Linked DNA regions of Homo sapiens: region 2 is linked to region 1. A link means that fine-mapping ties the variant in region 1 to the expression of a gene that starts in the linked region. Tissue or cell type: fibroblasts. Region 1 holds a variant in brackets; the other region holds the start of a gene. All regions are shown on one strand. Distances are between the middles of the regions.

Region 1 (5,149 bases):
TATAAAACTTCTCATTTCTACTCATGGCTATGCCTTTAAGCTGTGGATTCAGAAATTTGTACTTGTTCTGAAATGAATTCACCATTTAGTATATGTGGATGTGAAATTCCAGGCAAGGGCAAATTACAAAACCCAGAGCTTTCCTATAGCTATCTAATATGCCAAATATAAAAAGGTACTTACTCGTGAAGTCAAATTGTGTGAAGCACCTAGAGTGTTTTGAGTTTCAGAATTCTTTGTTGAAATGTAAATGATGGTACCTTATCTATAGTGCAGCCCTTGAACATAACTTTATAACATATCTCAGAGTAGTTTGTTATACTCAACTTCCCTTTCTATGATGACATGCTTGGCCATACTGCATGAAATTTACATGCAGATTTTAACTATTAGAAGTTTTGAGGTGAGCAGAAAGCATTGGATTAAAAATTACTAACATCCTGCTTTTCTCTCACAGACATGACTTGAGATTCTACCATGTAGCCAGAAGGGCAATAATGGTGAGATACTTTGTATGACAAGACTCATTAATTATAGAACCCCCCCGAAGCAAATATACTTTCCTATTTAATCCTGACAGTTTCCTGTTTGCAGTGTTAGATGTTTGATGCCAAAACATCTGGAGCTCTAGTGCAGGGCACCCACTTTTCACACCATTTTCTGGAGTCTACACAATTACTTTAGCTTCCCTTCATCTTCACTTTAAATTTTATCTAGAATTTTTCCCCAAGGAAAATACTTCATCTGTGCTTTTCCTAAGATTTTTTTTTTTTTTTTCCTGAGATGGAGTTTTGCTCTTGTTGCCCAGGCTGGAGTGCAATGGCACGATCTCAGCTCTGCAAACTCTGCCTCCCGGGTTCAAGCGATTCTCCTGCCTCAGCCTGCCGAGTACCTGGGATTACAGGCACCCACCACCATGCCTGGCTAATTTTTGTATTTTTAGTAGAGACGAAGTTTTGCCATGTTGGCCAGGCTAGTCTCGAACTCCTGACCTCAGGCCTCCCAAAGTGCTGGGATTACAGGCATGAGCCACCGTGCCCAGTCGTCCTAAGATATTTTTATTGTGTGTGTGGTTTCTTCCTTTCCCTCCCCACACATTCTGGTGAAGACTTGGGTGTCTTGGAGACTGGACCAGAAGCCATGATCATGGCTTCTCACGAGAACAAAGGCCACCATGAACCATCTAATTCTCATTTGCTTCTAAGAAGAGATGGGCTAGATGGCATGCTGATTTTAACGAAGCACCTGTGAAGAAAAGTTTAAAAAGGAAAGTGAAACCTTGTCAAAATCAGCATTCACCTACACAAGGCAATTCGGAAAGTTTTCATGTATCTCCACCCTAAATCTGCACTAATTAGCCCTTGAACCTCTTTTCCCTTGGCTAAATGATCCACATTTCTCTCTGATAGACTGCGATTCACATTTCTTGTCCTAACTGCTTTCCTATGATGCCTTTCCAAGTTCTCTACATTCTTTGGAAGTATGGAATGGATTTCAGGACATAGCAACACAAGAAAGGAAGTGGTAGATACCAGTCATTCTATGAGGACTGCCCCCCAGTTTGTACATTTAACATCACTATTTATATATCCCACTAAAGCAGCGTTTAACAACTTAATGTGACAATGCCAACACATATCCCAAGTTTCATTTATGTGAATTGAATTTTAACAAAGGAAGTGTGTCATTTTAAAGAAAATCCACCCATCTAGCTTGGAGAATCTAAAAAGTTAAATATTTGACCTACTTGTCAGTGTTGAGATGATCAAATTTTCCTTCTTTTCTGTACTCTGTTTCATTTCTGTAGCCACCTCTCCTGGATTCTTTTTATTGCATTTCCCTAGTGGCTCAATGGTATCGACTCATGAAAATATAGTGGTACTTTAGTAATTACTGCAGGACTTTGGGCTTGAGAACAACTAGTGTAAATTTGGCCAGATTTTGAGTTTTTTTGGTACTTTGCCTGCGTTTCTTAATTTGTGCCCAGGCTTTTGTGATTCAGCTGGCATCTAACATTTCACAGGAAAATCTAGTGTTTTAAGGATGTCAGTAAAGGAGAGAATTCTCTTGAGGCTGATTTGCTTTCTTAAACTCCTTCTAATTTGTTCCAGCTTTAAAACTGTGAATAGAGACCTCATTAAACCTCTTCTCACAAACCTTCCTGCACTGCACATTAGCAAAAGGCTGCTTTGATGGGAGGCATTTCTCCTTTGTGGCTGCCCCCAACCCCCTTTTTTTCAATGTTGGCAAACAAAAACCTGGCAAGAAGAGTGGCTATCACAGACTTGGACAAATTTTGATGGCACAGTTTTAAATGCTCAGATAAGGGGCCTTTTGGTGGCTGACCTATGTGAATTGTTTCAGTCCAGAAAGGAAAGGGGCCTCTTAGCAGGAGCCTTTGTATGAGAAGAGAGAAACCAAACCTGCCATTCAAAGCTGCTCAGCATGCTCACGGGTTATAGGCTGCCTCACTTCTAACCAAGCCCCACTCTGCAAGTCTGCAGAGGAGAATCCAACCCTGGTGATGGGACCTTTTTCTCCTTGGCTGGTCTCTCAGCCCAAGGGACCACTACATCCACATCCTTTAGCAAAACAGGTACACTGGGCAATACCAAGCAGAGGTTGTGCATATTTTATATGAGGATTTTAACTACTAGAAGTTTTAAGCTGTGCAGAAAGCATTGGGTTAAAGAACACTAACATCCTGCTTTTTTCTGAAAAAAAAAAAAAAAAAAAAAAGAGAGAAAAGCAGGATGTTAGTGATGCTGAAAAAGCCAACCTCTGAAAGGGTTTGCTCCTGAAAAACTTCTCTTGTCTGCTTTGATCTTTAAAGGCATAAATTACCCATCCCTGTTCTACAGACACACCTTGTTGTCTTAAGTATTATTTTCAATGCACCAATATGGTTTCTCCTTCCATGTGGATTTCTCCATCCTTGTGCCATCCCTGGGAGAACACAGAGACCAACATGCCCATGCACTGTAGTGTTCACAGCTGTGTTAAGTTGAGGCCCTTTACCTAAACCAAGACTGACCCCAGAGAGCTTCTTCTCCCTCCAGACCCATCTACGTCTCTACAGTCCGGCC[G/A]CAGTCAAAGCACATAGTAGTGATTCTGGACCACGGGGCTTCAGTCACAGACACTCAGCTTCAGATTGCCAAGGACGCTGCTCAGGTCATCCTCAGCGCCATCGATGAACATGACAAGGTGACCATGACCCTTGTGACCCCTATGGCATCAGGTTCTCCTTGAATGCCTTTTTTAAAGTACTTTATTGTTTTGTGATATACAGATCCTCCTTGACTTACAATGGGGTTACATCCTGATAAATCCATCATAAGTTGAAAATGCATTTAATACACCTGAGCTACATCACAGCTTGGGCTAGCCTACCTTAAACAGTCGGAACACCTAGGTTAGCCCTCAGTTATGGAAAATCATCTAACACAAAGCCTATTTTATAACATAATAAAGTGTTGGCTATCTCGTAGAATTTATTGAATACAGTACACTGCAGAATACTATATCAGCGGTTCTCCTTTATGATTGCATGGCTGACTGGGAGCTGCGGCTCGCTGCCATTGTCCAGCACCATGAGAAAGTATCAGGAGCCTGGGAAAAGATCCAAAATTGAAAGTACAGCTTCACTGCCTGCCTATCGCTTTCTCACCATCATAAAGTCAAACCATTGTATGTCAGGGACCATCTGTATATTTTTTTAAATCCATCTTTAAAAGGACTTTGGGAAAAGAAAAGACTTTGGGAAAAGAGTATTATTCTAATATTTGAGGAAGCAGCCACAAATCCAAAAATCCCTTTCGTAACTACCACCAAGCTTAGTCTTATACTTCTTTATGGCTCATGGTAAGGTTTCTAATTAGCCATGACTTTCACACTGGAGGTTACGCTGAGGAGGAGAGGGGTGGGAGATTTGGATGCTGATGGATGGCTGAACTTTATTGCAAGATTGTTGGGAAGTCAGGAAGAAGGGAAAGCCGCTAGTGGCTGACTAATCTCTGGGACACCTCAGAGAGAGGTGTGGGTACAGCTAATGATAATCTATTGCCTGTGGACATTTTCTGCTTCATCATTTTGACTTTGCCAACTCCAGAGGTTTTGCTCACTAACCTAGTGGCTTAAAACACACACACCTCACTCTCTTACCCTCACCCCTCACCTCCAGGTTGAAAAACAGGATAGTTCATTCTTGCTATGACTTTTCTCTGCATAAAATAGTTTGTGTGTGTGTTTAATGTTATGTATGAACATAATACTACCACTTCATGTTGGAACAAAAACCAAACTCTAGGGGTTTCCCCACTTTACCAATCCTTATGGATCCTTTTCAAATTTGATAGATGGATGGCTCCAGGGATTTATTTTGAAACTCTCAGAATCTGTTCTGTAGGCCTTCTTACTCCTTGGCCTCTTCTGTTACATAAATAAATAAATCTTTAGACGGTAGGATAACAAGTTTGGTGGTTTTTTTTTTTTTTCTTTCCTGCAGATTTCTGTGTTAACTGTGGCAGATACCGTCCGGACTTGCTCACTAGACCAGTGCTATAAGACCTTCTTGTCTCCAGCCACCAGTGAGACAAAAAGGAAAATGTCCACCTTTGTTAGCAGCGTGAAGTCTTCAGACAGTCCTACCCAGCACGCAGTGGGATTCCAAAAGGCATTTCAGCTGATTCGAAGTACAAACAATAACACAAAGTTCCAAGCAAGTGAGTGCGTTCTCTCAGAGGACTTAGAGGCATAGTAGATAAAGATGGCAATAGGAATATATTGTAAATTGATCACACAATGATGTTTAGAGAGATTTTATTTATTTATTTATGTATGTATTTATTTATTTATTTATTTACCTTGAGACAGAGTCTTGCTCTGTCCAAGCTGGAATGCAGTGGTGTGATCATGGCTCACTCCAGCCTTGACTTCCTGGGCTCCAGCAATCTTTCTACTTCAGCCTCCCAAGTAGTTGGGACCACAGGCTTATGCCACCACGCCCAGCTAATTTTTATATTTTTGGTAAAGAAAGGGTTTCACTGGCTGAGACCTGTCTGATCTCAAACTCTTGAACTCAAGCAATCCACCTGCCTTTGCCTCCCGAAGTACTGGAATTACAAGCATGAGTCACCGCGACCAGCGTAGA
Region 2 (5,149 bases), 160 kb before region 1:
GCTTGCTTGCAGTCTAGCATTAGTTCATAAGACTAATGTCAGGGCGGGGAAGGGGGGTCTATAAAATGCATATTCCAGGACCCACCCCCCACCTCCAAAGATTCTGCTTTAGTAGACCTGGAATAGAGCACAGGATTTGCAGTTTATTAAGTGTCCTGAGGCTAGTGTGTTTGGTGGATCACACTTTGAGAAACAAGGTGGAGAAATCAAAGCTTTCAAGTGGAAAATCACAATGTTGCTTGTTAAGCGCTGAGGGGACATTAAGTGCTGAGAGAAGAACCAAGAGCTTTGGAGCACCAAAGAGGAGCCGTAAACTCTGTGGGGGTAGGTGTCACAGAAATGACACCTCAGCTGAATAGGGGACCTAGCAAGTGGAGAGAAGGGGAAGAATTTTGAGGCTGCCATATAGGTGTTTTCTGGGAGTGGTGAGGCAACTGAGGGGCACAGTGGCTACAAAAAGGCCAGAAGAGCAAACAGGGTCAGAGCACAAAGGGCCTTGTTTGTTAAGTTTACTTATCTGTGATGGGGCATCAGAAATGTTTAGATTAGTGAATGACAAGTTGAGATTTGACTTTTAGAAAGTTGATTTTGACTTCCATGTGAAGAACAGAATGAGGGGGAACAGAGAGACTGCACAGAGACCCATGAGGAGACTGGTCATAATACAGGCAAGCTGCAATGAGGAACTGAAGTCAGGCCATAGGATGCAGATGGACAGCGGGGGATGGACACGGGAGATATGTTGGGAGCTGGGGTGGATGGAGAGTGCGTACCTAGCTTGCAGAGTGGGTGACATCCACCTAGATTTGCAGCCAGACATGGATTTAGGTGGAACATGGGGGAAAGCAGTAATGAGTTTTCATTCAGGTATATCTACTAGAGAAGTCAGGAACTTGCTAGAAAAAATGGAGATCCAGGTTGAGCTTTATTTAGAAGTATGATAAACTCGTGTTTGGTAATAATTGAAGGCATAGATGTGGTCGAGAGTCCTCAAAAAGAAGAACCTTAGAGTGAAAAAAAGGTGACATTGGATTAGCATCCCAAGAAATAGGACCTCAAGAAATACCAACATATAAAAGATGGGCAATAAATGCCTATTGTGAAGGCATTTCAGAAGGAGTTTAGAGATGTGTGACACCTTGGTGATGGTAACCTTGAAGAATCAAATAAAAAAATAATGCTATATGTCATTATTATTTTTGTTCTTTACTCTTCCACTAATCACATGGACTAATATGCTTTCTCTTGCGGAGTGTCATGTCAAAGGTACAACAATTTAAAAAACGGAAGTTAAAGGATCATCTTTCTAACAAATGTCAGCTCAACTCCAGGAATAGAAGACATACAGGTAGGTTTTTACCTCATTATTAACTCAAGAATCATTTTTCCAGTACTACTATGTGCTTGTGTGGATGATGTGGAGGTGAAGGGATTGGTCCCCACACTCAACATGCTTGCCTTAGTATGTAAAACAAACATCACAGGCTAGGCGCAGTGGCTCATGCCTGTAATCTCAGCACTTTGGGAGGCCGAGGCAGGTGGATCACCTGAGGTCAGGAGTTTGAAACCAGCCTGGCCAACATGGCGAAACCCTGTCTCTACTAAAAATACAAAAATTAGCAGGGGAGTTGAGAATGGAGAAGTGATCTCAATGAGGTAAAAATGGGCCAGGGAGAGCTTACAAGAGAAGATGACTTTTTAATACAATATAGTCAAAGATGTAAAACAGAAGGTTTTGCTGTAAAATGAAAAGAGTCCTAAATCCAGGTTCTAATCCTGCTACCACCTCTGCTAGGTAACCCTGGACTAGTCCTTTAACCTTCCAGTGTTGGCTCTGTTCTCCAGGAACCTGCAAGCAGCAACCACACAGGGCTTGGAAGGGAGAGTGGCTGTTCTCCACACACAGCAGGTTGACTTGTTCCAGGTGCTTCCAACAGGTGATTTCTCAGCGAGCCTGAGCCAGTAGTCAGGGACAAACAGGAAGGTTAACCTTGCCTCTCCATGCTTGGGAGAACAGGTGTGTGCGCGGTGGACTCCGGTTCAGTCGTTCTTTTTCTTTTTTCTTGCTTTTGATGGGATCAGATGGTTCATTTCCAAAGAGAGACAGAGAGAACTGTATCGTATTTAGGAGCAATAGCCTTGGAGTAAGACTTGTGCTTAAACTCTGGATTTGTTTCTTATCCCCTGGGTGACCTCTGGCAATTTATTCCACCTCTCTAAGCCTCAGTCTTTGTTACCTAAAAAATTGGGATAAAGATACGTACCTCCTATGGCATGTCGCGGAGATTAAAGGATAATGTGCACACCCCCGAGCCCAGTGCCGGGCACACGGTGGCTGGTTGCAACAGAAATCTGTGGGTGGAACGCTAGCTAGCCATTGTGATGAATAACATCAAGGAGAGGGAGTGGACCTACACATGGCAGTCCCCTTCTTCCCCAACCGCTGCCAGGCAGACAGCCAGCGTCCTAGAACTTAAAGGACTTTTCGATGGCTGGAACCTGGGCCGGGTGGGCTCCCTGGCGCGGACGGAGGCGGGGAGCGCTGGCGGGGGTCTCCGTCTCCAGCCACGGGAAGGTCCGTGGGCTCCCCTGCCCGGGCTGGGCCGGTCCCCGAGCAGAGAGAGAGGCTGGTCCCCCGGCCCCCGGCGTCCCGGGGGGCAGGTTCTGAGGCGGGAGCCAGGGAGAGAGAGGAGGGGCAACCGGGGGAATTTCCCCGCCTCTCTTGCTGGTTCCATAAATCACCGCAGCCGCCGCGGCGGCCCAGCCGGGAAGTGCACAGAGCCGGAGCGCAGCGTGGTGGCACCAGACGCCTCCCTTTCCCCACCGCTTGCTTTCTTTCTTTCAGTTGTGTGGGTTTGTGAAGCCTCCCCTTTCCCTCCTCGCTCGGGTGGCTGCCCCAGTCTCGCAGCCCGGCCGCCGCTCCTCTTCCCCGGGGGCCGCCGTCAGTCCTCGCCGCCGCCTGCTCGCTGCGCTGGGACTCGCAGGAAGCGAGAGCCGCGCGGCTCGGCTCGGGCTCCGACTCCGACTCCGATTCCGACTGTCAGCCCCGGGGCCCGCGCACCCCGGCCTGCGGGCGCCCCTGCTCTCGGAGACGCCCTCTGCGCCGCGGGGCCCGTGTGGGCGCCGGGCTCCGGGGACCGCTCGGGCGGCCGCCTCCTACCCCCACCGCCGCGGAGCCCCGCGATGGTGGCCGCCCGCGCTCCCGCGCTGTAGCCGGGCGCCCCCTAAGTTTGGGAGCCTTCGCCACCGCGGCGCGGAGCAGAGCCTGCAACAGAGGAAGAAACTTTTGCGGGGTGCGCCGCGCTTTTGCGGGGGGCACCTCCCGCGGCCCGCTTCCCCGCGCCCGGAGCCCGTCGGCGGGGAGTGGGGGGAGGCAGCATGGCCCGCCAGCCGGAGGAAGAGGAGACGGCCGTGGCCCGGGCGCGGCGGCCGCCCCTCTGGCTGCTCTGCCTGGTCGCGTGCTGGCTCCTGGGCGCCGGGGCCGAAGCCGACTTCTCCATCCTGGACGAGGCGCAAGTGCTGGCGAGCCAGATGCGGAGGCTGGCGGCCGAGGAGCTGGGGGTCGTCACCATGCAGGTAAGTGGCCCCCGAGCTGGCCAGACATCCCGCCTTTCTCCTTTGCTCAAACTCCCATCCCACTCCCGGTACAAGTCCCCTGGACTGTGTGCATCGGCTCCTTGCATACATAGAGCCCGGCTTCCCGTCGGACCCCTCTGTCCTCTGCACAGACCCCCTGACAATACACCAACTCTTCTTCCATGCATTCGTCTACCCCTGCCCTTCTCTGGAGAATCCCCTGCCCTCTGCACGGAACCCACTTGACCCTGCACAGCCCCCCTCTTCTGAGTACCAGCGCCTTCATCTCGTCAAGGATTCTCCAGTTTCCTCGCACGTCTTCTCTAATTTGCACACATTTCCCATGTAGGCTTGTTTTCACCCTGCCACGCCTGCAAACTCCCCCTTTGTGTCCCCATCCCAGAGCAGCCAGCCCCGTCTGGCTCGGACGATTTTCCGAAGTCCCCACCCCACCCCCTTGACCGCGTCCTCGCGTCCTCGCGTCCTCCCTACCGAGGCGCACCAATGGGCGCCGGGAGGGAAGGCGCCGCAGAGTACGCAGCTGCCCCGGGGACACCTAGGTCCCGGCGGAGAGCGGCCCTCCGAGTGGGCTCCGCGCTCCTTTCCCCTCCCGGGAGCATGGGGGGAGGGGCTGGCCTGGTAGATTCTGGGTAGACTCCCGACTCTAATCCTGCTGGGGGACTCTTTTTGTTGCTTTCCGCATATCCTGCTGTAGTTTGCGTGCTGTCTGCTGTATGATTTTTGTTTCGTGTGTGCCTTTTTGGGTCGAAGAAAAAGGGAGCAAAGTGAATAAGGTTCCCATTTCTCCAGATTGTTTATCATGTCCGTCCTCCTCGGGAGAGGAAGGAGGGCTGACAGAAAAACTGCCCGCAGCTAGTAAGGAATCCTGATGATGTTACTCACGACCAACAGTAGTAAAAATTGCTGAACACCAACCACCTGGAGATTCTGCCCCGCTGTTATTTTAATCCACTTGGCCATAAAGGCCCACTAGATTAGGAGAGGTTGAGATGACATTCCCAGCTTGAAACCTTTGCTATAACATTCTTAGATAAAATAACACCATTCTCTTACACATTCTAACAATCATGGGGATGAATGTGGTCTTCGAAAGATTGAAGTTTCCAAGAATGCGTTCTTGGAATAGGTTTCTGATTTCCATCCTACTGTGACCACTCCTTCCACCTCCCACCGGGAGAGGTGTTTAAGTCACTTTTGGGATTTAGGTTTCTTACTTCTTTCTTCTTCGTCGCGTCGTCCTCCTCGTCTTCTCCTTCTCTTCTTTCTTCCTTCTTCTTCCTCCTCCTCCTCCTTCTCGTTCTTCTCCTCCTCTTTCTTTTCTTTTTCCTTCTTCCTTCCTCTTCTTTCCACTTCCCCACACCAATCTCCTCCCAAGAGGTTACAATTTTCTTGAGGAAAGTTCCACAGACCTTCTCTACTGTGGGGAAAGACCACCGGAATTTTTTAAAGGGTGACATGAGGACTGAGGAGTGGATGGATTTTGAAAGGTAATTTTGCATTTATTTGCAGACACCCAGCCCTGAAGTGCAATGGAGTTGGGTTTTCTTGATTT

The links. PIP is the estimated chance that this variant, and not a neighbour inherited with it, causes the effect.
Region 2: it holds the start of CACHD1, and the variant in region 1 is fine-mapped to the expression of CACHD1 in fibroblasts (GTEx, PIP 0.99). The same link has a PIP of 0.9 or more in lung.

Annotation. Positions count from the first base shown.
Region 1 is chr1:64,629,540-64,634,688 of GRCh38, forward strand. CACHD1 (cache domain containing 1) reads left to right here. Exons shown (of 27, transcript NM_020925.4): 6 at 3,060-3,204; 7 at 4,505-4,721. Among named protein-coding and RNA genes, the nearest start is that of MIR4794, 52 kb to the left of the region's middle. The variant G/A (reference allele first, on the strand shown) is at 3,087.
Region 2 is chr1:64,467,367-64,472,515 of GRCh38, forward strand. CACHD1 (cache domain containing 1) reads left to right here and starts at 2,763. Exons shown (of 27, transcript NM_020925.4): 1 at 2,763-3,576. The coding sequence starts at 3,379. It overlaps LOC107984966 (a long non-coding RNA gene), which reads right to left and starts at 2,659. Exons shown (of 2, transcript XR_001738100.2): 1 at 1,820-2,659; 2 at 907-1,004. RefSeq lists a silencer at 2,973-3,092 and an enhancer at 4,892-5,149.